Homo sapiens: one gene and its partners. Each later gene encodes a partner of the first gene's protein in a complex. Each region holds a gene or a part of one and is shown on either strand. Other genes may lie near its edges. The genes, in order: AXIN1, SIAH1 and GSK3B.

The links.
Region 2: the proteins of AXIN1 (region 1) and SIAH1 are in contact, whole or in part, in a crystal structure (PDB 5WZZ), measured with the Homo sapiens proteins. Residues at the interface, in NP_003493.1 of Homo sapiens: Pro378, Lys379, Glu380, Val381, Arg382, Val383, Glu384, Pro385, Gln386, Lys387; in NP_003022.3 of Homo sapiens: Cys130, Pro131, Ser154, Thr156, Leu158, Asp162, Ile163, Val164, Phe165, Leu166, Ala167, Thr168, Asp169, Val176, Asp177, Trp178, Val179, Met180, Asn272.
Region 3: the proteins of AXIN1 (region 1) and GSK3B are in contact, whole or in part, in a crystal structure (PDB 4B7T), measured with the Homo sapiens proteins. Residues at the interface, in NP_003493.1 of Homo sapiens: Glu384, Pro385, Gln386, Phe388, Ala389, Glu391, Leu392, Ile393, Arg395, Leu396, Glu397, Val399, Gln400; in NP_001139628.1 of Homo sapiens: Ile228, Phe229, Val263, Asp264, Leu266, Val267, Ile270, Lys271, Asn287, Tyr288, Phe291, Lys292, Phe293, Pro294, Gln295, Ile296.

What each region holds. Positions count from the first base shown.
Region 1 is NC_000016.10:348,804-358,439, forward strand, and holds the start of AXIN1 (axin-1), read right to left. Parts: upstream 3,921-9,636; 5' UTR 3,632-3,920; coding exon of another isoform or gene 3,566-3,631; intron 1-3,565. UniProt on the Homo sapiens protein: Component of the beta-catenin destruction complex required for regulating CTNNB1 levels through phosphorylation and ubiquitination, and modulating Wnt-signaling.
Region 2 is NC_000016.10:48,381,490-48,391,366, forward strand, and holds the start of SIAH1 (E3 ubiquitin-protein ligase SIAH1), read right to left. Parts: upstream 3,925-9,877; 5' UTR 3,715-3,924; intron 3,381-3,714; exon of another isoform or gene 3,287-3,380; intron 1-3,286. UniProt on the Homo sapiens protein: E3 ubiquitin-protein ligase that mediates ubiquitination and subsequent proteasomal degradation of target proteins.
Region 3 is NC_000003.12:120,091,017-120,100,811, forward strand, and holds the start of GSK3B (glycogen synthase kinase-3 beta), read right to left. Parts: upstream 3,432-9,795; 5' UTR 2,419-3,431; coding exon 2,331-2,418; intron 1-2,330. UniProt on the Homo sapiens protein: Constitutively active protein kinase that acts as a negative regulator in the hormonal control of glucose homeostasis, Wnt signaling and regulation of transcription factors and microtubules, by phosphorylating and inactivating glycogen synthase (GYS1 or GYS2), EIF2B, CTNNB1/beta-catenin, APC, AXIN1, DPYSL2/CRMP2, JUN, NFATC1/NFATC, MAPT/TAU and MACF1.

The DNA of each region.
Region 1 (9,636 bases):
TAAAAAAAAAATAGGCCGGGCACAGTGGCTCACACCTGTAATCCCAGCACTTTGGGAAGCCAAGGCGGGCGGATCACGAGGTCAAGAGATCGAGACCATCCTGGCTAACACGGTGAAACCCCATCTCTACTAAAAATACAAAAAATTAGCCAGGCATGGTGGTGGGCACCTGCAGTCCCAGCTACTCGGGAGACTGACGTGGGAGAATGGCATGAACCCGGGAGGCAGAGCTTGCAGTGAGCCGACACCGCGCCGGCCACTGCACTCCAGCTTGGGCGACAGAGTGAGACTCTGTCTCAAAAAAATAAAATAAAATAAAATAAAATAAAATTAGTAAATAAATAAGAAGCACCCATAGATGGAGGATGGTTTGCAACTATGTGCCCCCAATGACATTTCAGCAGCTAAGGACTTTTTGTGAACGCTGCTGGGTAGTATGTCATCTTGGCCTCAGCAGGAACACACAGCTTCTAAAGGTCAAGGCCCAGTGAGCTGTGACATCCTGCTGCTCACAGACCACTTCAGCGGCAGTCACTCCGTGAGCCACATCAGCATGGAGGGAGCACCCTGGGCGTGGGCACCTCCACACTAGCTCACGGTCATCTGTCTGGGACGCCATCACAGGAAAGAAGGCCTGCACCCTGACCACCTGAGCCTTACCACTATAGATGTACTACCATTCACTAGCTTGAAGAACCAAGTCACCGGAGAGTGGAAAGTGATTAATCAGACAGTGCTCAGAAGGGAGGCTAACCACAAGTCACCATCATGCTCTCATAAGGGACTTAAGTCTTCTGTGTTAATTATTGGTAGTAGCGGGACCCACAGCACCCAGCACAAGGTCCTGCAACTAACGGGCACCAGTAAGTCATTCACTGATGTAAAAAAGAAAAGACATTTGTCACAGACGCCAAACACTGGCTCTCTACAGGGGCTGAACTACTGTACCACAGAAAACAGCAGCAAATTCTTCCAAAACTAATGGGTTTTGTTGTTTTGTTTTTTGTTATTTTGAGACAGGGTCTCGCTCTGTCGCCTAGGCTGGACTGCAGTGGGGCGATCTCAGCTCACTGCAGCCTCAGCTTCCCAGGCTCAAGCAATTCTCCAGCCTCAGCCTCTCAAGTGGCGGGGACTACAGGCACGAGTCATCAACGCCCGGCTAATTACTGTATTTTGGGTTTCACCACGTTGGCCAGGCTGGTCTCAAACTCCTGAGCTCAAAGCAATCCACCCGCCTCGGCCTCCCAAAGTGTTGGGATTACAGGCCACTTTGCCTGGCCCCAAAACTAATGTTTTAATTCATGTGTGAACCAAATTTTCAGAGCCCAGAAGAAAATTTTCTTACAATCATGTGTATTTTTGGCTGTCAACTGACAGAAGACTTTTTGGTGTCCCTGGAAGCACATGAACCCCTCTACAAGCTACTGATGTTGTTGAAACATGTCCCAATTCCTGAAATCTCTGGGTTCCCACAGGGAAGCACACCAAGCATTTAGTGTACACACAAGTACACACCACACATAAAGCAGTCACGTTTACTCAGTTCAGTATCAAATGCCTGCAAGCACTGAATCTGGCCCACAGCCTGTAGCTACCATCAATAAAGTGAGTCCATAAAACGGGCGGGATGCCTACAAGTATGATACTGTATTTAAAATTCCCTTTCGTCACCGCTTAGGCATATGCTCCAGGCATCATGGCAGCAAACTCAATGCTACCTACGTGTGTAGGTATTTATTTTACCCAAACGTAACTTTTGACATTTTGATTTACATGGAGGAGGCAAGTAACACAACACGACTCTGACATCTTCCCAGCTGTCCATTGATTTAACTCTTGAAGGTTCAGGGCTACTATTTCACATGTAATTTATTCCCCCATCACTGAAATTCTCAATGACCAATGTAATCCGAAAAAGTCTGCTTAGCTTTTCTGAAACTAGAAACCCAAGACAAGTCAACACCAGCTGAAAATCAAACAAAAACAGTCTGTTTTTCATGCTTTCCCATCCTTGTCCCTGAATGGAGATCTTAAAACTGAAACCAAAGCCAGGTGAGGTGGCTCACGCCTGTAATCCCAGCACTTTGGGAGGCCGAGGTGGGCGGATCACCTGAGGTCGGGAGTTCAAGACCATCCTGACCCACATACAGAAACCCCATCTCTACTAAAAATACAAAATTAGTCAGGCTTGGTGGCGCATGCCTATAATCCCAGCTACTTGGGAAGGCTGAGGCAGGAGAATCGCTTGAACCTGGGAGGCGGAGGATGCGGTGAGCGGAGATCACGCCATTGGACTCCAGCCTGGGCAACAAGAGCAAAACTCTGTCTCAAAAAAAAAAAAAAACTGAAACCGAGCTATTGCTGAGTATCTCGGGTAGCCGGTTTAGACTGTGTTTTCTCCAAAATAGGGCCTGTGGATCCAAGTAAGCTCGAGATTCTTCCTGAAGAAGCAGAGAACAGAAGTGTGAGCAAAAACAAGGGGCTGACATGCACATAAGAACCCTTTATAAATTATCTTAGAAGGGGCCAGGCGCGGTGGCTCACGCCTGTAATCCCAACACTTTGGTAGGCCAAAGTGGGCAGATCACCTGAGGTCAGGAGTTCCAGGCCAGCCTGGTCAACATGGTGAAACCCTGTCTCTACTAAAAATACAAAAATTAGCCGGATGTGGTGGCGCATGCCTGTTATCCCAGCTACTCAGGCGGCTGAGGCAGGAAAACTGCTTGAACCCGGGAGGCGGAGGTTGCAGTGAGCCAAGATAGCGCCACTGCACTCCAGCCTGGGCTACAGTGCGAGACTCCGTCTCAAAAAAAAAAAATTATCTTAGAGGACGGTGGTCACCCCTGTAGTCCCAACACCTTGGAAGGCTGAGGCAGGTGGATCGCTTGAGGCCAAGAATTCAACACCTGCTGGGCAATATAGTGACACCCCATCTCTACAAAAAATATATATATATATATCTTATAGATGGGCTGAGAAAAATCCCCAGAGAACTGACATGTTTTTCTCTACTTTCTTCAATGCCAAGCTGAAAGTTTCACTGCTCGGGCAGTGCAGCTCTGGTTTCACGGGGGCTAAATTCCAAAGTGCGGGGCGGGGGTAGAATCTAAGAACCACACCCAAGAGAAAGACCAGTGTTTGGGCAGCAAGGCATCAACCTGGAGGGTACGGACGCCGGAGCACGCGGCTACTCAGGCCGAACCCCGACCCGGACCCGGCACGCGGCCTCGGCGAGGGCGGGCGGGAGTGTCCTCCTCCGGGACAGCCGGACTCCCGCCGACTTCTGGGCGGCGGGGAGGGCTCCAGGCCCGGCTCTCCCGGGCCCCCGCACGCGATGCGCGGCCCCTGCAGCTGCTCCGTGCCCCGAGACGCGCCCGAGGCCTCGGACCTCCAAGCGGCCACCGCGCCGCCAGTCCCGCTGCCCAGGGACACCCCGGCCCCAGCTCCCCGCGCGCCCACCCCCTCGGTCCCACGCGCGTCAGCCACCCGCGCCCCCCGCCGCTTCCGGGTCCCGCCCGCCCGGCCTACCGCGGCCTAGCCCGCCCCGGAGCCCGGCCCTACTCACCCGCGCGCGGTGGTGGCGGGACCCCGGGCCCGGCTCCCGGAGCGGCGCGGCGCGGTCCGGGCCCATGCGCTCAGCGGCAGCGCGGCGGGCGGGACCCGGCGGGGGCGCGGCCCGGGGCGGCCCCCATCTCGGCGGCTGCGGCTCGGCGGCCCGGAGGCGGACGCGGGGCAGGCCGCGGGGGCGCCGCAGGGGCCCAGCCGCCAGCTCCCACCCGCCCGCTCCGCGTGGACGCGGCTCCGGGCCGACTCCGGCCGGCTCTGGCGGCGGCAGCGGCCACGATCGCCTCCCGAGCCAGAGCCCGAGCCAGAGCGCCGAAGCCCAGGCCCGAGCGCCCCCGCCGGCGGCGTCCGGAAGTGCGGGGGCGGGGCCGGGGCGCGGGGACGAGGTGAGAGCGCGGGGCGGGGCCTCAACACGGGGCGGGGCCGGCAGCGCGGGGACGAGGTAAAGGGTGTGGGGCGGGGCTTCAGGCGCGGGGCGGGGCTGAAAGCGCGAGGATAAAGTGAGGAGCGTGGGGCGGGGCCGACAGCGAGGGGACAGGTGAGGAGCGCGGGGCGGGGCCGGGGCGTGGGCGGGGCCGGAAGCGAGAAGACGAGGTGAAGAGCTCGGGGCGGGGCCTCGGGCGTGGGGCGGGGACCAGGGAGTAAGGCGGGGCCCGCCTCGAGCAGAAGAGGTAAAGAGCGTGGGGCGGGGCCTCCGGCGCGGGGCGGGGCCGGAAGCGAGAAGACGAGTTGAGAAACATGGGCCGGGGTCTCTGCATGGCCGGGAGAGGGCGTGGTCAGTGCCTGCCGGGGGCGGGGCGTGCCGGGGGCGCGGTCGCGCCGTCTTCCCGAGGGGCGGTGCGGAAGCGGAGCCCGGGAGGCTTTGGCTTCCCAGAGAGCGGAGTGGGAGAGGCGGCGTTGCAGGTCCTTGGAATGGCCGCGGCCGTGGGGAGCACTGGGCGGACTGCGCGCCCCGAAGGGCGCACGTGGGGCGCAGCCCTTTTCTGCCGCCAGTACATCGGAGGGCAGTCAGGGGGCTGCAGGCCTCGGGGCTCCCTGCCCAGCCGGCCCTGGAGAGGAGGCCCTCGTGGGGACCGCCACGGCCTGCCCGCCGCCGTGAGGGAAGCAGGCTCCCAGGAGTGGGGTGGTCGGCAGGCAGGGATGGCCAGGGCCCTTGGAAGGTGGGGTGGGCTCCACCCTCCTGAGTCCCAAGGCAGCCTGGACTCACAGCGCCAGGGAACACGTTAGGCCCCAATATATGGTGGCTCTCACCCGGACAGGAGCCACAACCTCCAAAGAGCCCACCGGCTAGGACCCTCTGCCTTGATTTCTCCCAGGCACCATCTAGTATCAGAGAAGGGTTCTCCTTCCCTCCGCTGCCCAGGCCAGCCCGAGAGCAAGGCCATTGGAGTGTCCAGACCCCTGCACCCCTTCCCCTGGGCTGTCTCCACAGCGGCCCTGCCAAGGGGTCCAGTCCGATCCTGCCACCCTGGCTGCCCAGATCCGTGTCACTTGCCCTGCAGGCCACAGAGCATGAGGTCACAGCCCCAGGCACCCCACGGCAGAGAGGCACGGGCCCCCAGCAGCAGCCCCAGCACCAGCTCTGGCCAGCCCAACCCTGTCAGAACCAACCCTCTGCTCTCCACCCAGGCCTCAGCCAACCATCAGGCCCTCCCCAAGGAGGAGGATGTGAGTACCAGGATCTGCCGCCTCCCACAACAGCCCAGGGCCCTGTCCTTCCCAGAGCACTATTGGGCCTGGCACCTCCCGGGATGCTCCAGGCAGCCCCCTGGGGTCAGCTATACCCCCGTTTCACAGAGGAGACAGCTGCAGTTCAGGCCACACAGGACCAGCTCGCCTCCTGTTGGGTGAGGGCTCCCCACCTCGTCCGCCCCACACCTGAGACAACAGCCCTCATCTATCTGCCCTCTGCTTTAGGCCTCCCAGGGCTCCCTGCTGCCCACAGCCCTTCAGGGCCCTTCCTAAGGGCGCCTCCCCCACACCTTCCCCTAGATGCGTCTGGCCACTTGCCCGCCTCCGTGCTTCCGTGTCCATCATGTCCATACCTGCCAGCTCCCTCCAGGCACCTCTCACGTCACCCCCATGTCTTTCCCTGGGCTGTGTCACCCTGGATGCCCAGCCTCACCCTTCAGAGCTCCCAGGCAAGCACAGAAGTCCCAGCTCCAGGCTCCCCGAGCTTCCAGCCTACCCCCAACCAGATGCCCACAGGTGGGACTGCATGGGGAACCATGTGTGGAAGCCTCCCAGCCCTCGCCCCTGCCAGCACTCAGCATGGTGTCTGATGCCAGCATCGCTGTGTGGGAAAGGGGGTAGCATGGGACAAGGGCCACTAGGCTGTCCCCAGCCTGCCAAGGGCCCAGGCCCACCTCCCAGGGCCATCACTGTGCTCAGAGCAGGTGGGCAGGGGCTGGGGATATGAACGAAGCTGCACTGTTAGACCAACACCTGGCCCCGCTGGGTCCTGGCCGCAGGCACCCTGCCAGGTCCCACAGTGCTGGACACTGGGGCCTCCCCGCAAGCCCCCTAGCCCATTCAGCCTCAGAACCTTAGAGGAGACAGAGTGGGTGGCCTCCATGGTAAAGCACAGTTTCCAGGGATGAGGGAGTCCTGGGTGGCCAGACAGACAGCAGGACCTCAGACACTGGCCCCTGGGCTGCCCCCCGACTCCCAACAAGGTCCCCAATGCTTGCCTTGGTTCTGCAGAGCTGCTGCTGTGTCCGGGCCAGGCTCTCGGGGCTGTGTCCACGTCCATCCTCCTCTTGGCCCTCGGTGGCAGGTGTCCCCAGGCCCTGGGACCAGAACAAGGCCCTTGGGCCTCCAGCTCCTCGGGGCCCCTGCCCTGCAGGGACAGGAAGGGGGTCAGAAAGCCTGGAGGAAATGCAGCAGCCCTTCTAAAGTAGGTTGTGGTGTGGGTGTGGAGGGGAGATTCTCTGAGCCTAGTGGGGGTAGGAGGAGACCAGAGGCAGGCCAGGCAGAAGAGAGGTAGAGGAAGGCCCTGAGGAGGGGCAGGGAGGCGCGCGGGGGCCTGTGGTGTGCAGGGTGAGGTTCAGCCACCTCCCTTCCTCACAGAGCTCCTTGAAGAGGCAAACGCCCTTTGCTTCGAGCGTGAGTTTGCCACGAAGGCTTTTATTTGATTGACCGTAGATGACATTTAATCAGGTTTTGTTTCTAGGCACCAAATGAGACACTTAAGAGCAGACATGGAATTATTTTCTTCAATGTAGACATAAAAGGTATGTTTTTTTGTTTGTTGGTTTTTGGAGACGGAGTTTCATTCTGTTGCCCAGGCTGGAGCCCAGTGGCGTGATTTTGGCTCACTGCAGCCTCCACCTACCATGCTCAAGTGATCTTCCCACCTCAGCCTCCCGAGTAACTGGGATTACAGGCGTGTGCCACCACACCCCACTAATTGTTTGTATTTTTGCTAGAGACAGGGTTTCATCATGTTGCCCAGGCCGGTCTCTAACTCCTGAGCTCAAGGGATCCACCTGCGTTGGCCTCCCGAAGTGCTGGGATTACGGGCCCAAGCCACCATGCCCAGCCTAAAAGGAATACCTTGAAAATAAAGTGGCTGGCCCGGAGCGGTGGCTCACGCCTGTAATCCCAGCACTTTGGGAGGCCGATGCAGGTGGATCACGAAGTAAGGAGTTCGAGACCAGCCTGACCAACATGGTGAAACCCCATCTCTACTAAAAATAGAAAAATTAGCCAGGCGTGGTGGCGCACACCTGTAGTCCCAGCTACTCAGGAGGCTGAGGCAGGATAATTGCTTGAACCTGGGAGGCAGAGGTTGCAGTGAGCTGAGATCGCCCCATTGCACTCCAGCCTGGGTGACAGAGCGAGACTCTGTCTCAAAAAAATAAAAATAAAGAAAAGGCCAGGCACGGTGGCTCACACCCGTAGTCCTAGCAGTTCGGGAGGCCAAGGCCAGAGGATCACTTAAGCTTAGGAGTTCAAGACCAGTCTGGGCAACATAGTGAGACCTTGTCTCTACTAAACAATTTTTAAAAACTAGCTGGGCGTGGTGTTGCGCACCTATGGTCTCAGCTACTCGGGAGCGCGAGGCAGGTGGATCACTTGAACCCAGCGGTTGGAGGCTTTAGTGAGCTGTGATTGAGCCACTACACGTCAGCCTGGGCAACAGAGTAAGACCGTGTCTCCAAGAAATAAAAATTAAGAAAATAATAAAGTGAGTTTTGATGCCTTAAGTGTGTTTATCCATTTAACTGAGGAAGACCACTTATAAAAAATGACCCAAAGGAAACCCTGGAAGACACCCCAAGGACATTAGCTGGGGAGTGTTTGCCGCTGTACGATGTGTGATGGAGACAGCCAGCTGCAGAGATGGACACTGTGCAGCCACCGACCCTGCATCAGTGTAAGGGGAGCGGGGGAAGAGGACGGACGGTTCTGATCCAGGGTTCTGGAGGCTGAGGGAAGCCTTGGGTTCAGCCTCTTCCAGTCTGCCCCTTCTCTGCCCCCTCCGCTCAGTCCATAGGTGTGAGAGGTGGGAGTGGGCAGGCAGGGGAGGCCGCTGGAGGGGAGGGAGGCCCCTCGAGGGGGAGGGAGGCCTTGGACCATCCCGTTCAGGCGAGGGAGGACTGCACTTTCCATCGCAGGCAGAGCCCCCACCACCCTCCACCGCCTTCCAGGCTGTAAGGCGAGCCCCAGCTCTCATCCCTGAGCCTTCTTTTTCCATCAGTTCTGAGCCCACAGGAGAGGCCAGATGCTGCCTGTGCCCCCATCCCAAGCCCGACAGAGAACAAGGAGCTACAACACCCCAGAGACATGCCGCCAGGCCACGCACACAGGGCACCACTTTTCCTGAAAATAGAAAATGTGGGCGGGGCGCAGTGGCTCACACCTGTAATCCCAGCACTTTGGGAGGCTGAGGCGGGAGGATCACTTGAAGTCAGCGGTTTAAGATTAGCCTGGGCAACAATGCAAGACCCTTTCCCTATAGAAGCATTGTTTTTAATTAGCCAGGCATGGTGGCGTGCACCTGTGGTCCCAGGTACACGGAGACAAGAGGATGGCTTGAGCCCGAGTGGTCAAGGCTGCAGTGAGCTGAGATGGTGCCACTCCACTCCAGTCTGGGTGAGAGAAAGACCTGACACTGGGCCAGGCGTGGTGGCTCACGCCTGTAATCCCAGCACTTTGGGAGGTCAAGGCAGGCAGATCGCCTGAGGCTGGGAGTTCGAGACCAGCCTGACCAACATGGAGAAACCCCATCTCTACTAAAAATACAAAATTAGCCAGGCGTGGTGGCGCATGCCCGTAATCCCAGCTACTTGGGACACTGAGGCAGGAGAATCGCTTGAACCCGGGAGGCGGACGTTGCAGTGAGCTGAGATCGCGCCACAGCACTCCAGCCTGGGCGACAGAGCGAGACTCTATCTCAAAAAAAAAAAAAGGGCAAGAAGACTCAAAACAGTCCACGTGTTATTAGTGGAAGCAGAAGCATGAAGTTCCATTTTCTTCTTTGCATGTTCAGGAATGTCTACAGGGATGTAACAGTTATGGTCCCGTGGAACGGTCTGTGTAAGTTAACCCACTGAAGGAGACGGGCATCACGGCTGAGGCCCTGAGGGGTGGAACTGACCACTGGGCAGTGTGTGTCCAGCAGGGTGATGGTCACGGCTGATGGCAGCCACATCGCCCCACGGTGGCCTGGGGCCTGGCATGGAGGTTCTGCCACCTTCCTGAGAGACACACCCTGCCAGGGGCTTCCTGGGCCATCCCAGCTGTTGGTGTCACTTTGGGCTGGGGCCTCCCCGGCCTCCACATCTGGCAGCCCCCTTAGCACTGATGTGCCCCTAGATAGGTCCTTCCTCCTCTCCCCCTCACACCTGTCGGGCAGGTGTGTCATCCAACTATGTTGCAACACGCTTCCTATTTGGAGTGGTCCACATAGCTCTGTAGCCAAAGCTGCCTCCGCAGGGCAGATGCCCCAGGAGTGATCCTGGTCCCCACAAAAGGCAGAGGCCTGGGGGAAGGGGAGCAGGGCCCTACCTCATATGCCCTGGCTCCAATATCAGGTCAGTGTGACTGTCACCATGGCCATGGATGACC
Region 2 (9,877 bases), about 48 Mb from region 1:
CTTCGAAGCCAACCAAGACATCCTTCAGTAGGTGAATGGATAAACCAACTGTGGTACATCTAGACAACAGATTATTATGCAGCCCTAAAGAAATGAATTACCAAGCCATAAAGACGTGGAGGAAACCTAAATGCATATTACTAAGTGAAAGAAGCCAATGTGAAAAGGCTACATATTTTAAAAGCCCAGTTACACATATGACATTCTGGAAAAGGCAAAACTATGGTGACAATAAAAGAAAGAAGATAAGTGGTTGGGGGTGTGGGGACAAATAGGTGGAAGTCAGAGGATTTCTAGGGTGGTGAAAGCATTCATGTATGTCATTATGTATTTGTCTAAACCCATAAAATGTACGCCACTATAATCTTTGGGTAATAATGGTGTGTCAATGTAGGTTCCTCAATTGTAACAAACGTACCACTTTGGCGGGGAATGTTGATAATGGAGGAGGTTACACGTGTAGGGGCAGGGGCTACACGCGAAATCTCTTGTCTCTTCTACTCAAGTTGCTATGAACCTAATGCTGCTCTAAAAAATAAAGTCAATTAAAAAAATCTGCATAAGGGGATATATGGGTCTACATCTCAGCAGGCAAAAAGATTGGAGGCCAGGCACAGCAGCTCACACCTGTAATCTCAGCACTTTGGGAGTCCGAGGTGGGCGGATTACTTGAGCCCAGGAGTTTGTGACCAGCCTAGGCAAGATGGCGAGACCTGACCTGGTCTCTACAAAATAACTTTTTAAAAAATTAGCCCAGTGTGATGGCACATGCTCCTAGTCCCAGCCACTTATGAGGCTAAGGTGGGGGGAACCTTTGAGCCCAGTTGGAGGCCACAATAAGCTATGACATCACCACTGCACTCCAGCCTGGGCAACATAGCAAGACTATCTCAAAAAAAAATAAAAATAAAAATAAAGATCTGAATGTCATTAGAATACGCACAGTAGTAGGTGAGTAAACAAATACCTACTGAGCACTAGGTACTGAGGATATATATTAAAAACACAATTCTTGCCCTTATGCAGCAGATATTCTAGTAACTATAGCCATGGGAACTAAATCATTTAAAGTGCATTAGACATCCTGCTATTTTGAAGAATACTATTAAGGATACTTATTGTAAAAAGGAAAATTTCCTTTTTTGGCGGGGGGATGGAAGGTTCTGGGGATTTCATACAGATTTTGTTGAAAGAGAGGGCTGTACAAAAAATATCTAGATTTTAACATTTCACAAAGCGAATATGGAAATTCCACAAAATTCTGTTAATAAATCTCTTTAAACAAAGAACCTCCAATCTTTAAAAATTTTGTAAATCAACTGCTTAAAAATACAATTTAAGCAGTCACCTAAAACTCTGTAAATTACTAAACTTTGTTACCCTAGTTATGTAAGATCTGTTTTCAAAACACCATACTCACTGAAAATCCTATTTGTTATTTTATGTCATTACTGACATAGCTAGATAATTCCTTCATAACTCCAATTTAACCTAATCATGCTTTTTAATTACAGATATTAAGAAAGAATATTTCTCTACAGCAATTTCGTAAGAACTTCCCGAAGCTTAGAGGGAATAGATTAATATTTAACAGATGTAAAATGCATTAACATTGTTTCTGAATTTGTACTTTGTGGAATACTTATCCTGAAAAGTTATCAGTTTCACATCTATTATACGTATTTCAGTTTAAAATATTAAATGTTAGTAAATTATGTTGGAAAGATGCCAATAACGAAAAAAAAACTGTTTGGCATAAACTTTGGGGAACAAATTCTGGATATAATCGCAACTAACCATCCAAGATTACAGAAATCTGTATCTTTATTTAAATTTTCAGAATGAAACACTACACAACCAATTTGTGTAATCTACTTTGAGTCTCAAGATCTACCAGTCTAAAGTCCTCCTAACAACTAATTAAAATCCTCTCCACCATAATTTGAGCCAACAACTCCCAGATAAAATTACCAGACCATTACATTTGCCACCACACTACATTCTGCTCTTCAGTAACTTCTAAAAGTGATGGTAACACCATAGATACACACTCAAGTATTCACTGTCCCACTTTTCTAAGTTGGTTAACTCAAGTCCTTGAAAGTGAACTGATCAATAAATCTAAACTAGCTAAGAGAAGACCTCATTTTAATCAATTTGATTTTTTTTAATCACAAAGATATAGCCATTCAAATCCCCGGCCACAGCAATTTCCAAAATGCCACCATCTCAGAAAGTCTGTTAATTTATCATACAAATCTCCTTGTCCTTTTTAACAACAAAATGCATTGAAAGAAAAAACCCAGCACTAAAGATCTGTGACCTGATTTCACAAATTCTGGTCTATGCACTTTCATCATACCAACACATCATGCCAAGAAAACCTCGTAAGTTTAGCTATTAAACTACAGTCTTAACAGTAAGCATTTGTTGAGAACTTAGTATGGGGCTGCCACTGCTTTCAGTCCACCTATTGTCATCTCATCAATTCTCAACAGGGCTTGAGGTAGATACTGTCGTTACACCCATTTTGCAGATAAGGAAAGCGAAGCACAGAGAAGTATCTGCCCAAGGTCACAAACCAGTGGAGCAGGATTTGACCCAAAGCAGACAGTCGGACTTCACAGCCCGTGCTCTCAACATCCAACTGCTGAAGAGTTAACAATTTACCCTTGACAGCCGCTATAAGCAAAGGTAAATGCTCAACTGCTAGGAAGGGACAGTCAGAACACCGTCCCATATCCAGTATCCATGTCTCTCTGTTTGTTTATGGCCTCTATGACTTTGGCAAAAGAAGTACACACAATCTGATTTTCCGAACACCCAAGCTGGACTTTTCTGAATGTCCGAGCAAACAAATTATGTATCTTTCCAGGAACGGGCAGACAGCGAAAACGAACCTACGCATCGGAGTGGCCCAGGTTATTCACTTTAAGTTATAAATTTGGGAGAGTTAAGAAAGGACCCCAAACTACCCGGCAAATGAACCCTAGGAAATGCCAGGTTTATAATAAGCTAGAGCTTCCCCGGCACGCCGTTCACGCGCTCTCCTCTCTAACGACATAAACAAGGGAGGAGGCTGCATTCTTCCCACTGCACAATGAAGCCTCCGGCCGAAGCGGCAGGAAGAGCGCAGCCCCGTCCCGGACGGCTCCAGCCGGGGGTCGGGGGCAGAGAGCGGAGGCCGAGGCCCGCCGAGCGGCGCGGTGCGGCCCGGGCCTCCGGGCGCCGCGGGGAGGAGGGGGAGGGAGGGCAGGGCCCCGGCAGCTGCCCGCACTCAGCTGACCTCCGCCATGTTGGCCGCACACCCCGGGACCCTCCACAACAAAGGCCGGCACGAGGGCGCGGGGCGCGCCGGGCGCCACCCCCGGCCGGGCCCGCCTCCCGGGCGCGCGGGGGCCGGGCCGCCGCCGAGGCCCTTCCCCCGCCCTCGGCCCGGCCGCGCGGGGCCGACCCCCGCCGCCACCCCGCCGGGCCCGGGGCTCCAGGGGCGGGGGCGAGCCGGCTTGCGAAGGCTGAAGGCAGGGGAGGGGCGGGGGGCGGCGCTCGACCGGGCGGCCCGACTCCGGCCGAGACAAAGGCGCCGCCGCGCCGACTACTGCCCGCGCCCCGGCCGGGCCGCCCTTCCCGCCCTCCGCCATTACCGGGCCTGGGCGCCCGCCTGTCGGAGAGCCCCTCGCCGCCGGCTCCTCCCTCAGGCCGGGCCCCACTTACCTGTGGGCGGAGAGCGCGCCTCGGACCCCGGTCCTGGCACCAACGCGCTCCGTCGCCAACCCCCGCCACCGCGGGCAGCGCCACCGCCTCTTCCCGGCGCCGAGACCGACGGGACACCCTGGGCCGCCGCCGCCTCTCGAGAGCGCGCCCCGCAACGGCCGCCCCGGCTCCCCCCTGGCCGCCGCCGCCGCCGCCGTTTCGCGCGTCCTCGAGCCCGCCGCGCGCCCCCGCTAAATACCACACACTGCGGCGGCGGCCATGAGGAGGCGCGGCCCCGCGCGCTGGGAGCCTGGGGGGGCGGGGCTTTCGCGGGCGCGCAGGCGCACAGGCGTTGGCGCGGCCGGCGGCGGCCTCCGCGGGCGTAGCTGTGCGGGTCTCCAAAGGCGGCAGTAGGTGCGGGGGCTACTCGGCTACCGTTGCTGCGCCCGTGCACCGCGCATTCAACGGATCCTGGCACGTGGCGCTCTGGCCCGCGAGAAGCTAGCGCTTGCCCGTCGGCTCAGGGCAGCTCCTCCCGCGGCGCTTTGTTCCGGGGCCGCGTGACCCCCCCGGCTCCGGCCGGAGGGGTCGCCCAGCGGGATGCGAGCCCCAGGCTGGCCGCCGCCGCGGCCTTGTGCCCTCCCCCTTGTTTTGTCTGCTGATTTAGCCCAGCGCCTCCACGGATCCTTCCCAACTCCACTCAGTCCCAAAGAAAAAGCGGCTGCCCTGCCCGCCGACCGGGACCCCACCCCTAAAGAGAGTCCCAGCCTCTCCCGAGGTTGAGCCGCTCCTCAGCAACAGCGGGACGAGCTTCAAAAGCTTGTTTCAGCTGAAAAGTGGGTAATGGGGAAGCACGCGTTTTCCTGTGTCCATGCTCATCTGGAAAGTCCCTAATTAGGGACTCTGCATTCCACTTCTTGAAATAATAAAAGGAAAACATCACTTGCAATTCTTTGATGGGTGCTATGAGCAGAAGCAAGCATCTGAGACATTTACAAGCCCTAACTGGAATTCCATGTAAGATCTATTAAAATGGTATTCCGTCCGGACGCGGTGGCTCACGCCTGTAATCCCAGCACTTAGGGAGGCCGAGGCCGATGGATTACCTGAGGTCAGGAGTTCGAGAGTAGCCTGGCCAACATGGTGAAACCCTATCTCTACTAAAAATACAAAAATTAGCCGGGCGTGGTGGTGCACGCCTGTAGTCCCAGCTACTCGGAGGCTGAGGCAGGAGAATCGCTTGAACCCGGGAGGCAGAGGTTGCAGTGAGGCAGAGATCAGGCCATTGCACTCCAGCCTGGACAACAGAGCGAGACTCTGTCTCAAAAAAATAAAAATAAAAATAGAAAAATCCCATACCGGGCACGTATGTACAAATTCCCAGTGTATGATAAAGTTTATATGTGCAAAACACTAGTTTACAGTATTCCTAATTACATGATTTAAACTGCAATTTTACTTTCACATTTTTGGGGAGAAGTTATAGCTCCTCAGTACACGGGAAGGTCAATAGAGTTCGGTTCACTTCAGTTTAGAGGTAAATTTTCCATTTTTACAGACTATGTGCTTGGCATAGCCATGTGGCCTTGACCTGGTCGTGAAGGGCAGAGGAGTTCTGTCCTGGGCGAGGAGCAGCTCTGGGGTGAGATGTGTTTCTCGCCCCCAGAACCCCTGGGCCGCTCTGCAAGCAGTGAAATGGATACGGACTAAGAGAGAACTTGCCAACGTGGCGATTAAAGTTCTAAACACCCGGCTTTGCCAAAGTCAGATTTTGTCCTCCTTATCCCGCATCCCTTCCTCTACCCAACAGCATTTGTCCATCTGAAAATAACAGTCTGTCTCTGGCCCACTGCTGACAGTCGAGGACTTACCTTATAAACTAGTGGATTCTCTTAAACTGCAGGGGTGCCCAGGACACAGTGTCCCCTGAGGATGCCGCACACCAGTCTTGAAGTGCTGGATCGTTGACGTCAGGCACCCAGAAGCAACTTCTGCCTCTGGAATTCTCAAACGTGCTTTTCTTGGCTTAGTTTGTGCCTGCTCTCCTCTAGAAGAGTCCAAGTTACTTCTTACTTTCCCCACTTCCCTTTTATACAAAACAAATTTAATCGGGTTAATTCCATCTCTGAGAATTCCTACCTAGATTTGGGCGGGGCTCAATCTGATTTGGTTAATTCTGGGTGGTAGCTATGGGTGGGACATAAACATCACCATTATAAATTTAATTTACTCCCCCTCTCAAAAAAATGTACCTTCCATTTGAAAGAAAATAGCTCCACTGTGGGGGTAACTAAGCACCTTTTCTGAACAGGGAGTTGACTCTGCTTCCTTGACAGTTTATCCATAGAAAAGCATTTTGTAAACTGTAAAGCCTATCCAAATAATCCTCCAATTGATGGGATTTCAGTAACGGTGACAAATATTTTCAGGCCACATCTGGATAGGGAGCCTTCCTGGTCCCCTCAAATCACATCAAATGGTAATTCCATCTATTGCAATGGAACATAACGCTCTGGTCCTGCATCTGGCCCGTAGTTAAGGTACCAGTGATGTAAATTACTTTCCTCTTATGAATAAAACAGGCACTGGCCAGGCACGGTGGCTCACACCTGTAATCCCAGCACTTTGGGAGGCCAAGGCAAGAGGATCGCTTGAGGCCCAGAAGTTCCAGACCAACCTAAGAACATAGCAAGACCCCGTCCCTATAAAAAGTTTAAAAATTAGCCCGGCAGGGTGGTGTGCGCCTGTAATCTCATCTAATCAGGAGGCCAAAATGAGAGGATTGCTTGAACCTGGGAATTTGAGGCCATAGTGAGCTATGATTGTGCCCCTGCACTCCCATCTGGGTGACAGAGGGACACTCCATCTCTAAAAACATAAAAATAAATGAATAAATAAAACAGGCACTGATGAGAGTATCTTTATTTGGGGGTTTTGCTATGAATTTATATTAAATTGATATTTATTTATTTATTTATTTTGTAATCTCGGCTCACTGCAACCTCCATCTCCTGGGTTCAAGCGATTCTTGTGCCTCAGCCTCTCAGATAATGCTGTCAAAGTTGGCTAAACTAGTTAAGACTGAACAGATGATTTCCAAGTGTCTTCATGTCAATATAGTTATTTTACAATAGACCAGTTCACAAGACCAAACCCATCTATTGAATCACCGATGGGCTGTGTTTGTTTCCAGGCAATCACAGATGTCTCTTGCCCAGGAAACTATAGCTATCTCCTCTTACATTAAACCACTGATACCCATTTGTCATTCAGCTTAGGTGGATAGGTCTGGAAACATATTAGCATTCCCTTCCAAGCCTGGCTCTGCTGGTAGCGAAACAGAATCTTTTTCAGCCTGGAAACTGGAAGGCGGTTCCTCCCTCCCAAATAGACTCCTATAAGCTTTGCAAAGGAAAGCAGGTCCCCAACTTGTCAGACATGCCTACAGCAGAGCAGAAACAATGTTTTCTTTATCAGACACACCTGTTGCCAGTCACTGTCTGAGGTTGGTGAATGTGTTAAACAGTATCCCAAACAAATTTTCCTGGACATGGTGGAGAAGTTAGAGACACAACATGAGCATCCAAGAATGAAACAGGAAGTAGCTGAAGGAAGTTCCCAAAAGCCCAAGTGGTTGGGAAATGAGTTCGCCCATAACTGTAGTTTTCCTTCAATATAATCAAGTTTCTTTAGGAAAAAGGTTACATGCTAGGCATCACATTTTTCAAGAAGTTAGAGCCGGGCACGGTGGCTCACGCCTGTAATCCCAGCACTTTAGGAGGCCAATGCCTGCAGATCACCTGAGGTCAGGATTTGGAGACCAGCCTGGCCAACATGGTGAAACTTCGTCTCTACTAAAACTACAAAAATTAGCCAGGTGTGGTGGTGGATGCCTGTAATCTCAGCTACTCGGGAGGCTGAGGCAGGACAATCACTTGAACCCAGGAGGTGGAGGTTGCAGTGAGCAGAGATCACACCACTGCACTCCAGCCTGGGCAACAGAGCAAGATCCTTGTATCAAAAAAAAAAATTAGAAAATCATTGAGGTTTTTATGTAGCTGGTGGAAGTAGGTGATACTGACAATTAGTTTAAGTAATTGTTGTTCTTGAGTTCATTGGAATGCAGTGATAACTGTCCAGTGCATTAGGTACAACCCCTGCCTCATGCCCAACCCACAGATGCTCATTTCCATGGATCCAAATCTTTTCTTTACACTTGTCAGAATTTAGCCTTTTTCTTTTTTCTTTTTTTTTTTTTTTTCCAAGACGGAGTCTTACTCTGTCACCCAGGTTGGAGTGCACTGGTGAGATCTTGGTCACTGCAACCTCTGCCTCCCAGGCTCAAGCAATCCTCCCACCTCAGCCTCCTGAGTAGCTGGAAACACAGGTGCGTGCCACTGTGCCCAGCTAATTTTTTTGTATTTTTGGTGGAGACAGGGTTTCACCATGTTGCCCAGGCTGGTCTCAAACTCCTGAGCTCAAGCCATCTGCCCATCTCGGCCTCCCCAAGTGCTGGGATTATAGGCGTGAACTACCATGCGCGGCCTTAGCCTTTTTAAAAAATTTAAGTATTTGTTGAACTGCTATGACATGGCAATAAGTAGAATAAATCCCTGGAGGGCAGGGTGCATGTCTGTATTTCCATCTATGCCTAGCACAGTGGCTGACACATAAAGGGCCCTCAACATTTTTGTTGAGCAAATGAAGAAATATTAAACAAGGACCATGCCCTTAACTATCACGGTCTATGGAATCTGTTTCCAGTTTCTCTTTTACATCCTTTCATTCATTGTTAGTAGATATTTGACTTTCTTTCCAAATTATCTTGGAGAAACTAGCATTTAGAAACATTTAGCATTCAAGAAATGCTTAACACACGCACAAGTTCATGGGTTACTTAATTTTTTTTTTTTTTGAGACGGAGTCTCGCTCTGTCACCTAGGCTGGAGTGCAGTGGCGTGATCTCGGCTCACTGCAAGCTCCGCCTCCCGGGTTCACGCCATTCTCCTGCCTCAGTCTCCCGAGGAGCTGGGACTACAGGCGCCCGCCACCACGCCTGGCTAATTTTTTGTATTTTTAGTAGAGATGGGGTTTCACTGTGTTAGCCAGGATGGTCTCGATCTCTTGACCTCGTGATCTGCCCGCCTCTGCCTCCCAAAGTGCTGGGATTACAGGTGTGAACCACCGTGCCAGGCGGGTTACTTAATTTAATACTAACAAATATATGAAGTGAGCACTGCTTTCCCATTTTACAGATGAGGAAATGGAAACTCAGAAAGGATAAAGAACTTTCCCATGGCATGTACTAATAAGTGGAGGTGTGGAAGTTAACATCCAGGTCCGTCTGGCCCCAGAGCCTTTGCTCCTTCCTCATTCATCGTGTCTTACAGCTGAGGAGAAACATGATCTGTGATTCATATTCATCCAGGAGGGCTTACACATGAATCTGCAGGGCCCTCAAGTCCTTTATGAGAATTTGTCAATTCAGGGTTTTCATTTTAATGAATTTTAGAAGGATGAATTAAAGTATATTTTACATTATCTAAACAACTACCTGCAATTCACTATGTTAATGAAAAAATGGCCAGGTGCGGTGGCTCATGCCTGTAATCCCAGCACTTTGGGAGGCTGAGGCAGGTGGATCACCTGAGGTGAGGAGTTCGAGACCAGCCTGGCCAACATGGCGAAACCCCATCTCTACTAAAAATACAAAAATTAGCCAGGTGTGGTGGTGGCAGGCATCTGTAATCCCAGCTACTTGGGAGGCTGAGGCAGGAGAATCGCTTGAATCCAGGGGGCGGAGGTTGCAGTGAGCCGAGATCGTGCCACTTTACTCCAGCCTGGGCGAAAGAGCGAAACTCCATCTCAAAAAACACATGCACACAAAAGTTATAACACTTAGGGTACAGTGGTGACCGCTAGACGCATTAAAGCTGCAATGGTTAAAGGGGTTATTTCTGGCAAAAAGTACTAGGAAAGGGGAACTAGGTGGAGTTGGGGTAGAGAAAAGGGAGAATTTTTTTTTTTTTTTTGAGACAGGGTCTTGCCCCATCACCCAGGCTGGAGTGCGGTGGTGCGATCAGAGCTCACTGCTGCATCGACCTCCTGGGCTCAAGCGATCCTCCTGCCTCAGCTTTCAAAATAGCCACCACACCCAGGTAATTTTTGCATTTTTTGTAGAGAC
Region 3 (9,795 bases), on another chromosome or scaffold:
CCTTTAACATCAGTCCTAATACACCTTGTCCGCAGGAAGTCTTTCCTCTCCCAACCATCAGTCTCACCCCTTTACTCTTTGCCACTCTGAACAAATGATTCAATTTGTATTTTACAATCTTGCAGTCATCACGCTATTGTTTTAATTTTTTTTTCCCCATAGCCTCCCTCTACAACTAAAGGATAAGCTTTTGAGAGCAAGGACTACAATTTCTTATGTCTGTTTTCAACAGGGGTTCCTTAGAATGCTAGCATCCTAACAAATGCTTAAAGACTCCCCTTTCTTTTAAATGCTTTTAAAGTCAAAGCTGTCAAAAACACATAATTAACACTAAACTCCAACTTTTAAAATTCTAAATTGACCTATATGGTAATCGGAATTAAACATTTTCATCTATATATTTTACAAGAGTTACTCCATCCTTAGTTAGTATCTGTATTACCAAGAATTCAAGAGTCATTTTCAAAGAAAATCCTGAAAAGAAAATGAAAAGTCCCAAAATGTAGCATTATAATCTAGCATTACAGATCTCTGAAATAAAGCTAATAAATCAATTAGCTGAAATAGACTGACTGATTTTCAAACTATATTACCAAGATGTAAAACATACAAACACTCCAGTACCACAAGAGGCTCTTAAGTAGCTATTATAAGATTTGTATCATCATAGCTGAAAATTACCCCGGAATTTTAAAATATTTTTCAAATCACTCCATGAAGTGCTTAGAAAGCACGACCCTTCCCTGAAAGATGCATAATCAGCTTTCCTCTTTACCTACCCGGGCATTCTCTACTTGCAAGCCACAAGAAAAAAAAAAAATTAACTTTCAAAAATTATCTCCCATTCAGCTATTACCTAGACTACCCTGTTTCAGGCTAGTTCCCAAAGCCAACATGAATTGAAATCTTGAGTTCAACTAAAAGTGATCATTTTATGTTGCCTAAGAATATAATCAATTTCACATAACATCATGTTTTGCGTGTGTGTGGGTTCTTAAAATCTCAGTTCTTTAGTTCTCTCAGTTCTTCTAGGCAACAAATTAATTTGTCTTTGCCCTCATGATGCCCCTCTTTCCCACAATAAGGAAACAATATAGATATTTTTGTTAAATTCTGCAAGTATGTTTAAACAAGCTATCATTAAATACCACATGAACTTCTCCATAAATAGAGATACACTGGAACATTAGATACTTAGTATATATTAAACACTTCAAGAGCATACTTTTCAGCACAAACCCAGGACAAGAGTAGTCTATCCACAACCCTGAACACAGCCCAAATATCCCTATTATTTCTAGGACCATAGCCATCTGCAAAAGCCAAAATGGAAAGGACTAAATCCACATTCTTCTAACTAAATCCACAGTTATCTAAATATGATGGAAACTAACGCTAGAGTGTTTTAAATCGTCCTTTTTAAGGAACCCGCCAGAACATTTAACAGGTAATGAATGCAGTAGCACTCCAAAATTGAACTTAAATGTAATGAGCCAGTGACAACATTTAACTTAGTATTTGGCACTATGACAAAACAAATCTCAATCAAAACTTGGACCTATTAATACTTCCAAGTTAACTTTTGATTAAACATAAATTATACGGTGGCAGGTTGGTAATGTCAAAACAGGAAGGTTAAGAGATAACACATCAAACCACTTATCCAATTGAACACAAATGCATACAGAGATGTTACTGCTGCTAGGTATTTATTGGCTCCCACTAGTCCCTTCTAAAGAGAGAAATCAATGGCAGCCTCCAAATGTGAATGGTTACTGAGGAAGTTCATCCACAGATTAAGAACAAATATTATGTGTAGTCATACAAACAAGAAAAAAATGTTGGGAGGGTGGGACATTTAACGTCTCTATTAAGTATATCAAACTATGATAACCCCTGAGACCTAAAATATTCTCTCATTCCAAATTCCAAAAATTCTGCAAATGTGCATAATGGTTTAGTAATCAAATCTTGTCCTTCTCTTTATTCTAAAGGATGGGCAAGTAAACACTGTCATCACTACTTTAACGTGGAAACACTCGAGCACTTGATGAAACTGACTACCAACAGCAAGAAAAGTACAAGAAAGCAGTTTGAAATCGAATCATCCAAATAAATATCATATTATCTCAATTCAAGGTTAATGAGACCGGGGGAGGGGGTATGGGAGGAGTAAAAAGGGAGCTGCTTCATCCTTGACTGAAGATAGGTTTTGCCCTTTTCCATTGCCTGTTTATCAGGAGGTCTAATAATTTCAGATCCTGGTATTTCGAGGTTTCTTATTTTAAGGGCGAGGTGGAAAAGGGGTGTAAAATAAAACCAATACTCACTGCTAACTTTCATGCTGCCAAAAGCTGAAGGCTGCTGCACCGGCTTGCAGCTCTCCGCAAAGGAGGTGGTTCTGGGCCGCCCTGACATGATCACTCTCTTCGCGAATCACCTTTTCCTTCCTTCCTCCTTTTCTTCCTTTTGTCTTTATGTTGGGGTGTTAGGTTAACGATAAATGCAGCATTAAGTTCTCCCACAGAAGAAAAAGAAAAAGACTTCGTCCTCTTGGCTTTTCACTCCTTTTGTATACTATAAAAAACAAAACAAGCGATATATTTCTCCTTCAAGACAGATCGGCACGGATATTTAACATATAGATGATTTAGGACTTGGGAAAAAATACAATTCTTTCCCCTCCCTTTCCTGGGAGGAGAGAAAAGAGAGGGCAAATCCTAAAAAAATATGTATCACGTGAAACGGGGGCAAATACTTGATTGAAAATGAGTACTTCGAATATTATATTTTCCTCGGGGATTTTTTTTCCGAGTCAATGAAGAAGGGAAGCGGCGGAAGGATCACGAGTCTCACGCTTGAAGAGAAAGGGGGATGGGTAGGAGGGAGGGAGAGGGAGGGAGGGGGTGGCTCGGAGATGCGACGGGAAACGCTGCAGCTCCGGCAAGCCGCGGGATCCGGCGGGCTGACGGCAGGGGCCCGGCGAACTAGAGGGCGGCGGAGTCGCGAGTCAGTCAGAGGCGGGCGGTGGCGGTGGCGGCGGCTCCTCTCCTCATTGCGCCAGGAGCAGCTGCAGGCGGCGGCTGGATCCAGCGGCCATGGCGGTGGCGGAGGCAGCTCCCTTCAGACCCCAGGCAGCGGCTCCTCGACTGTTCCCCATTCGCCGGGGACATGGGAACCCGGCAACCGCTTCCGTCCCTCGGGGCCCCCTCCCCCGTCCGCGGCAACAGCTCGGCCGCCCTCCCGCCCCTCGGCTCTGCTCGGTGCCCGCTCAGGAAGTGTCCGCGCTTTGCCCCAGCCCAGAGCCCTGTCAGCGGCTGCGGGGCCGGCTCCTCCTCGCTTCCTTCCTTCCTTTGTCACTTGGCCCGGGCGGCGGCGGCGGCGGCGGCGGCACAAGCCCGCATTCGCCCGGGTCAGGAGCTGCTCTGTGTGAGGAGCGCTGTCTGCGCAGCCGCCTTGCACTTCCCCACTCCTCCTCCCCCCTCCTACTCGTCCTCCACCTCCTTCCTCCCCCACCCAGCCTTACACCGCCCAGCGCCCCGCCGCCCGCGTAACAGGCGTCTGGGAATCGCCGGCCGAGCCCCACGCTCGCCCGCTTCGGCTGGGAGCCGAAGCCCGAACGGAGCCAATCACGGACGTCGTTTGTTTGCGGCTCCTCCCGGAAAAAGCCGATCAGCCTGAGAAACCAATTAGAAAGTGACGCTGGGAAGCCACGCCCAAAGAGCGGAAAATGCCGAAGGTAGCCGAACGGAAAGGGTGAATTCGCCTTGTTCGGTGGCTGGCTGGAGGAGACATTCGACAATGGCAACAGTGGCCAATCAGAGTCGCCGGCCCTTACGAAGAGGCTTGAAGAGTTGAGGACGGTGAAACCCAGAGACGCTGGTGAAACTGCACGGCTGGGCGCCGCCGCCGCTTTGTGATTGGCTGGAAAACTCCGCTGGGAGCGTACCTCCTTCGGTGATTGGTGAAGAGAAGGGGGCTTCCGAGGACAGTCTGGCCAGTCAGGACTTCCCCTCCCTCTCCAAGGTGGGGAGAAGAAAGCGAAGGGAGGGCGTCTATAAAGCGCTGTCTCATTGGCCTGAAGCTTAGGCGCTGGAGTTGGGGCAAAAGGGAGAGGGAGGGAGCCCGAAACTCGCGGCGGCGGCCAATCGGCTCTCACTGCCGTCCAATCGCAAGACCTAGCTGCAGTGTGATTGGCCTTCGGCCCCGGTCCCAGGAGCGGGGAGATGCCTGACTCGGGTCGTGGCTGACGACCCGACGGTTCGCCTGCGGCCGCCTCCAACAACGGTGGAAACCGCACACAGGGACCGCGGGCCCTCGGTGCAGCAAATCGGAAAGTGCTGCGGTCGGCGGCCCTGGGCTCTGAGCGCTCAAGCGAGCAGAGGGGTGGAGGGGCTCTCCCCACCCACAGGAGGCTCTCGGCGGGGCGCAGCCAATTCTGCGCGCCCAAGGCTCCCCTCTGCCGTGGATCGCGTGTGCCGAGTGTTGGCCTCTTCCCCGAAAGGGCCAGACGGACCAAGGGGGCCTTCCCAGCCGGCTGCAAGCTCTCAGACGCTAAAATGGGAACAAAGCTTCCAGAAAGGCAGCGCCTTTGGGCGGCCGCGCCCCGCCCAGCCGCGGGGGCCATTGATACAGAGGCTTGCTGCGCTTGGTGTGCGCGGCCCGGCCGGGCCTCTGGAAACGCCCATGAGAAATGAGCTCATGCTGGATGCGCGCGCTCCTTGGGCGCAACTGCCCAGCGCAAAACGGGCCCCGAAAGCAGGTGAGGGGAAATGCCGTCAGGCCGGATATCCTGAAGCCTCCGAGGAAATGGGGGGGTCAGAGGAGCCCGTGGTAGCTTTGGATCTTTTGGAACTAGGGTGATCTATAAAAGTGCAGCTTGAGAAGATTTCATACATAAGACCAGCGTCCATTGTTCTACCATAGAACCAGTTCCTTTGGTCTGCTTTAGAACAGTGAGGTATGGCTACGTCAAGATAACAGAGAAAGTAGAACAGACAGTTGCCATCCTGATTGTAATCCAGTGGTGCCTGTAATTTCTACCTGCAGAGTCATCTCTTTCTGTTAAGATGCTGTCTCCAGAAAGCACATGTTAAAGGACCTATATTTGATCAGATTACCTGGCTCTTGCTTTGAAACACTGATGAAGGACTTGGGACAGAACAAAGTAAGCTTTGATGGAAGACAGGAAAGGTCTAGATAGTGTTTGCAGATTCAAATGGCTACAGAGGCCAGACAAGTAAAGCAAATGAGTGAGACTGGCCTTGTGTAAGACAATGGGGAATGATAGGGAAAATGGCAAATTGGAATATCCATGCCATAACTAAAAGGAACAGCTGCTCAACTCTAGCAGATTGTTGCCCTCAGGAATGTGGGTCCAGTGTTCTCAGATGTTCAATTTTTTTCCTCCCAAAAGAAACCCCAAAATTGGATTTTTGTGTGAAATCTCTGCATTTTTAAATGTTGGTAACCAAATTTTCAAACCCTGCAGGCCAACCTAAAAACATCCCTTGGCCAATGAGGCATTGGAAAAAGTGTTAATAATTGTTAGGGGCCCGATAGCAGTAGGAGGGTGAAAACAAAATGGTTTGGGACCTTAAATAATTGAAATGTATCTTTATTTATTTATTTATTTTTGAGACGGAGTTTCACTCTTGTTGCCCAGGCTGGAGTGCAGTGGCGCGATCTCGGCTCACCGCAACCTCCGCCTCCCCGATTCAAGTGATTCTCCTGCCTCAGCCTCCCAAGTAGTTGGGATCACAGGCATGTGCCACCATGCCAGCTACTTTTGTATTTTTAGTAGAGACGGGGTTTCTTCATGTTGGTCAGGCTGGTCTCGAACTCCCGACCTCAGGTGATCTGCCTGCCTCAGCCTCACAGAGTGTCAGGATTACAGGCGTAAGCCACCACACCGGGCCGGTTGAAATTTATCTTTAAAATAGTGCACCTTTAATCCTTTTTTTATTTCTGTGTGTATCTTATAATGTGCATATCATGTTAGCTCAAGATCAAGAGTTTATGGACAAGCCAGGAGTGGTGGCTTATGACTGTAATCCCAGCAATTTGGGAGGCCGAGGCAGGTGGATCGCCTGAGGTTAGGAGTTCAAGACTAGCCTGGTCATCATGGTGAAACCCCGTCTCTACTAAAACTTTAAAACTTAGCTGGGCGTGGTGGCGGGCGTCTATAATACCAGTTACTTGGGAGGCTGAGGCAGGATAATTGCTTGAACCCAGGAGGTGGAGGTTGCAGTGAGCTGAGATCGCACCATTGCACTCCAGCCAAGGCAACAAGAGCAAAACTCCGTCTCAAAAAAAAAAAAAAAAAAAAAGTTTATGAACCACTAGTTTAGACAAAGAATAGTTGTACAGTTGTACAGATGGATAAGGAAGGAAAGAACATTCCAGGCAAAGAGAAAAGGTTATGCAATGGCTGAAATGTTTAACAAGGTATTTGGAGACCTTGAGATAGTTTGAAATTATGTAATGTCTAAGATGTGGGCCAAGAGAAAATAAAGGAAAATATCACAGGATAATAGAGGAGTAAAGTAAACTATGCTGTATTAACTCCATATTAGGCAGCCAGTAAAAATAAATACAACCACCAAAAGTAACTCAGAAATATGTTTAGGAAACAATACTAATTGAAAAATATAGAACTTCAGGTTGTATATCTACCATATTTCCAATCTGTAAAATATAAGTACATTTGGATCAAGATTGGAAAGGAAGACAAATTAGAATAACTCGTCAATAACATATTTAAATATAAATGAAAATATTTAAATGTCTTTGCTTAGTATTTTTATAATAAATTTCTATTTTTTTACTTTTATTTATCTTTTAATCTCACTGTTATCCAGGATGGAGTGCAGTAGCACAGTCATAGCTCACTATGGCCTTGAACTTCTGGGCTCAAGCAGTCCTCCCACCTCAGCCTCCTAAGTAGCTGGGATTACAGGTGTAAGCCACTGTACCCCACCTCTGTGTTTGATTTTAAGGGGAATTGGCCCAAAAAATAACATTTATATTATTTCTTCACTATGATTCACATGTCCCTCAGAAGCCTCTAATTACAATGGAATTCTTAAAAAAAATTCACATTTCTCAGCAAAGCTTTCCAACGAAAATTTTTATGATAATCCTTTGTCATATAAGTTAAAATAGTAAAACTAGACAATAGTGAGTAAGTATTATATTTGAGACACCTGCTAGGCATCTGATATAAGGTGGATGAGAGGATCAGTGTCCTTTGGGAGTTTACCCTCTAGGGAAGCAACTACATGAAAAGTTAAATAAATTATAAAAATCACATTTTGAATTGATAAAAGTTATGAGACAGAACATAATTTGGTTTTTATTTATTTTTTTGAGACAGGGTCTCACTTTGTCCTCCAGGCTGGAGTGCTGCGGCCTCAACCTCCCAGGTTCAAGGGATCCTGCTGCCTCAGCCCCCCAAGTAGCTAGGACTACAAGGGTGCACCACCACACCCAGCTAATTTTTGTATTTTTTGTATAAATGGGGTTTCGCCATGTTGCCCAGACTGGTCTCAAACTCCTGGGCTCAAAATCTGCGTGCCATGGCTTCTCAAAACGCTAGGATTACTGGCGTGAGTCACCATGCCTGGCCTATAATTTGTTAATATGGTTGTTACTACAAAGTTTAAAATAAATTGCCCATGCATTCCTATTTATAATAGGTGAGTGGAGGACACTTCAATCTAAAGTGATCTTAAAGGAGGAGTAGTAGGATTTGAAGATGAAGAAAGAAGAGGGGAGGTAAATTACTTTCCATCACTTCAATTTCAACCCATCAGATAAAACCTCTCTTTAGTAAACCTGCATGTGGGTGGAGCTGTAACAGCAATTAAGGACAGTGTGACTCTGTTCTTCTGACTTTGGGAAAACCAGTTTGGCTGGAACAAAAAGCTGATAGAGAAGACTAATGGAAGATAAGGTTGAAAAGGTAGGTTTGAGGGAGCTTTGTTACAGGAAAAAAAAAAAAAAAAAACTGGGCTTTGTCCTGTAGACAGTGGAGAGGTACTTTAGCAGATGTAAGACATTACCATTATAGGAAAGCCTCTGAAGTAACATACACTGTGGTTTTTCCTGTTGCTGAAAATATGCCCAGAGTAACAAGATGTGGCATAGTTGGTTATGTGTCTTATAACCAGTGAGGTGTGCCCAAATGGGAAATTAATGAATGACTACCCAAAAAGAAGAGGGAGAGTGTTTGAAACACTGTCACTGTGAAATAGACTGGTTGTATGAAAAGTTGCATATCAAGCCTTTGGCAAATTATATAAATACTCTGATTTTGACATCTTAAAGGAGTATACTATAGAAAATAAAAGAAAAACACTTGAATCTGTTACAGGAAACGGGTCATGATCCAGACCCCAGGAGAGGGTTCTTGGATCTCACACAAGAAAGAATTCAGGGTGACCCCACAGTGCAAAAGTCAAAGCAAGTATTAAGAAAATGAAGGAATAACAGAATGGCTACTACATAGAGCAGCCCTGAGGGCTGCTGGTTGCCCTTTTTTTTTTTTCCTTTGAGATGGAGTTTTCGTTCTTGTTGCCCAGGCTGGAGTGCAATGGCGTGATCTCGGCTCACCACAACCTCCACCTCCCAGGTTCAAGCAATTCTGCCTCAGCCTCCCGAGTAGCTGAGATTACAGGCATGCGCCACCACGCCCGGCTAATTTTGTGTTTTTAGTAGAGTGAGGGTTTCTCCATGTTGGTCAGGTTGGTCTTGAACTTCCGACCTCAGTTGATCTGCCCGCCTTGGCCTCCCAAAGTACTGGGATTACAGGCATAAGCCACCGCACCTGGCCTGGTTGCCCATTCTTTATGGTCGTTTCTTGATGATATGCTAACCAAGGAGTGGATTAATCATGCCTCCCCTTTTTGGACCACATAGGGTCTAAACTGTCATGGCACATTTGTAAACTGTCATGGCACTGGTGGGAGTGTAGCAGTGAGGACGACCAGAGGTCACTCTCGTCGCCATTTTGGTTTTGGTGGGTTTTGGCCAGCTCCTTTACTGCAACCTGTTTTATCAGCAAGGTCTTTAAGACCTGTATTTTGTGCTGACCTCCTATCTCATCCTGTGACTTAGAATGCCTTAACTGACCATCTGGGAATGCAGCCCAATAGATTTCACCCTCATTTTGCCCGGCTCCTGTTTAAGATGGAGTTGCTCTGGTTCACATGCCTCTAACAAATCCTTTTAGTTTTTCATGCTTGTCACATGTTTACTTCTAAGGGTATAATCATGTGGTTTACTATATTATTACCGATTAGATTATTTTGAACTACTTCAATTTTATTTATTTTACCTCATTTCCATTCACATTTTTTGAAAAGAGCTTTTTTATACAAGAGTGTAAATATTTTCACATTGAATAAATGAATTGAAAACAGTATGTGTTGATTGAATACTTGAAGTATACTTCTTTACAGCAAATTCTAGGAATTCAGCTTTGTTTTATGTGCATTAAAATGTAATAAATATAGGCCTGAGAAATTCTCAGAACAAATATTTTAGGCCCTCAGTAGCTGTAAATCGGGAACGGTCAGATTTCCTTCACATGGAAATGGGACTCACATCTCTCAGAATGGAACAGAAGTCTTTTGGTCTTTAATCTATGTCATGTTGATGGGAAATGTGAAAGCTACAAGAAAATTGGTATTTGGTTTCTTGGATATTGAATATCCTTGGCCAGGGGTGCAGGGAAGTGAAAAAAAAGTAAGACCTCCTATGGATCATCCAAAAAGGAATTTCAGAATGCAGAGA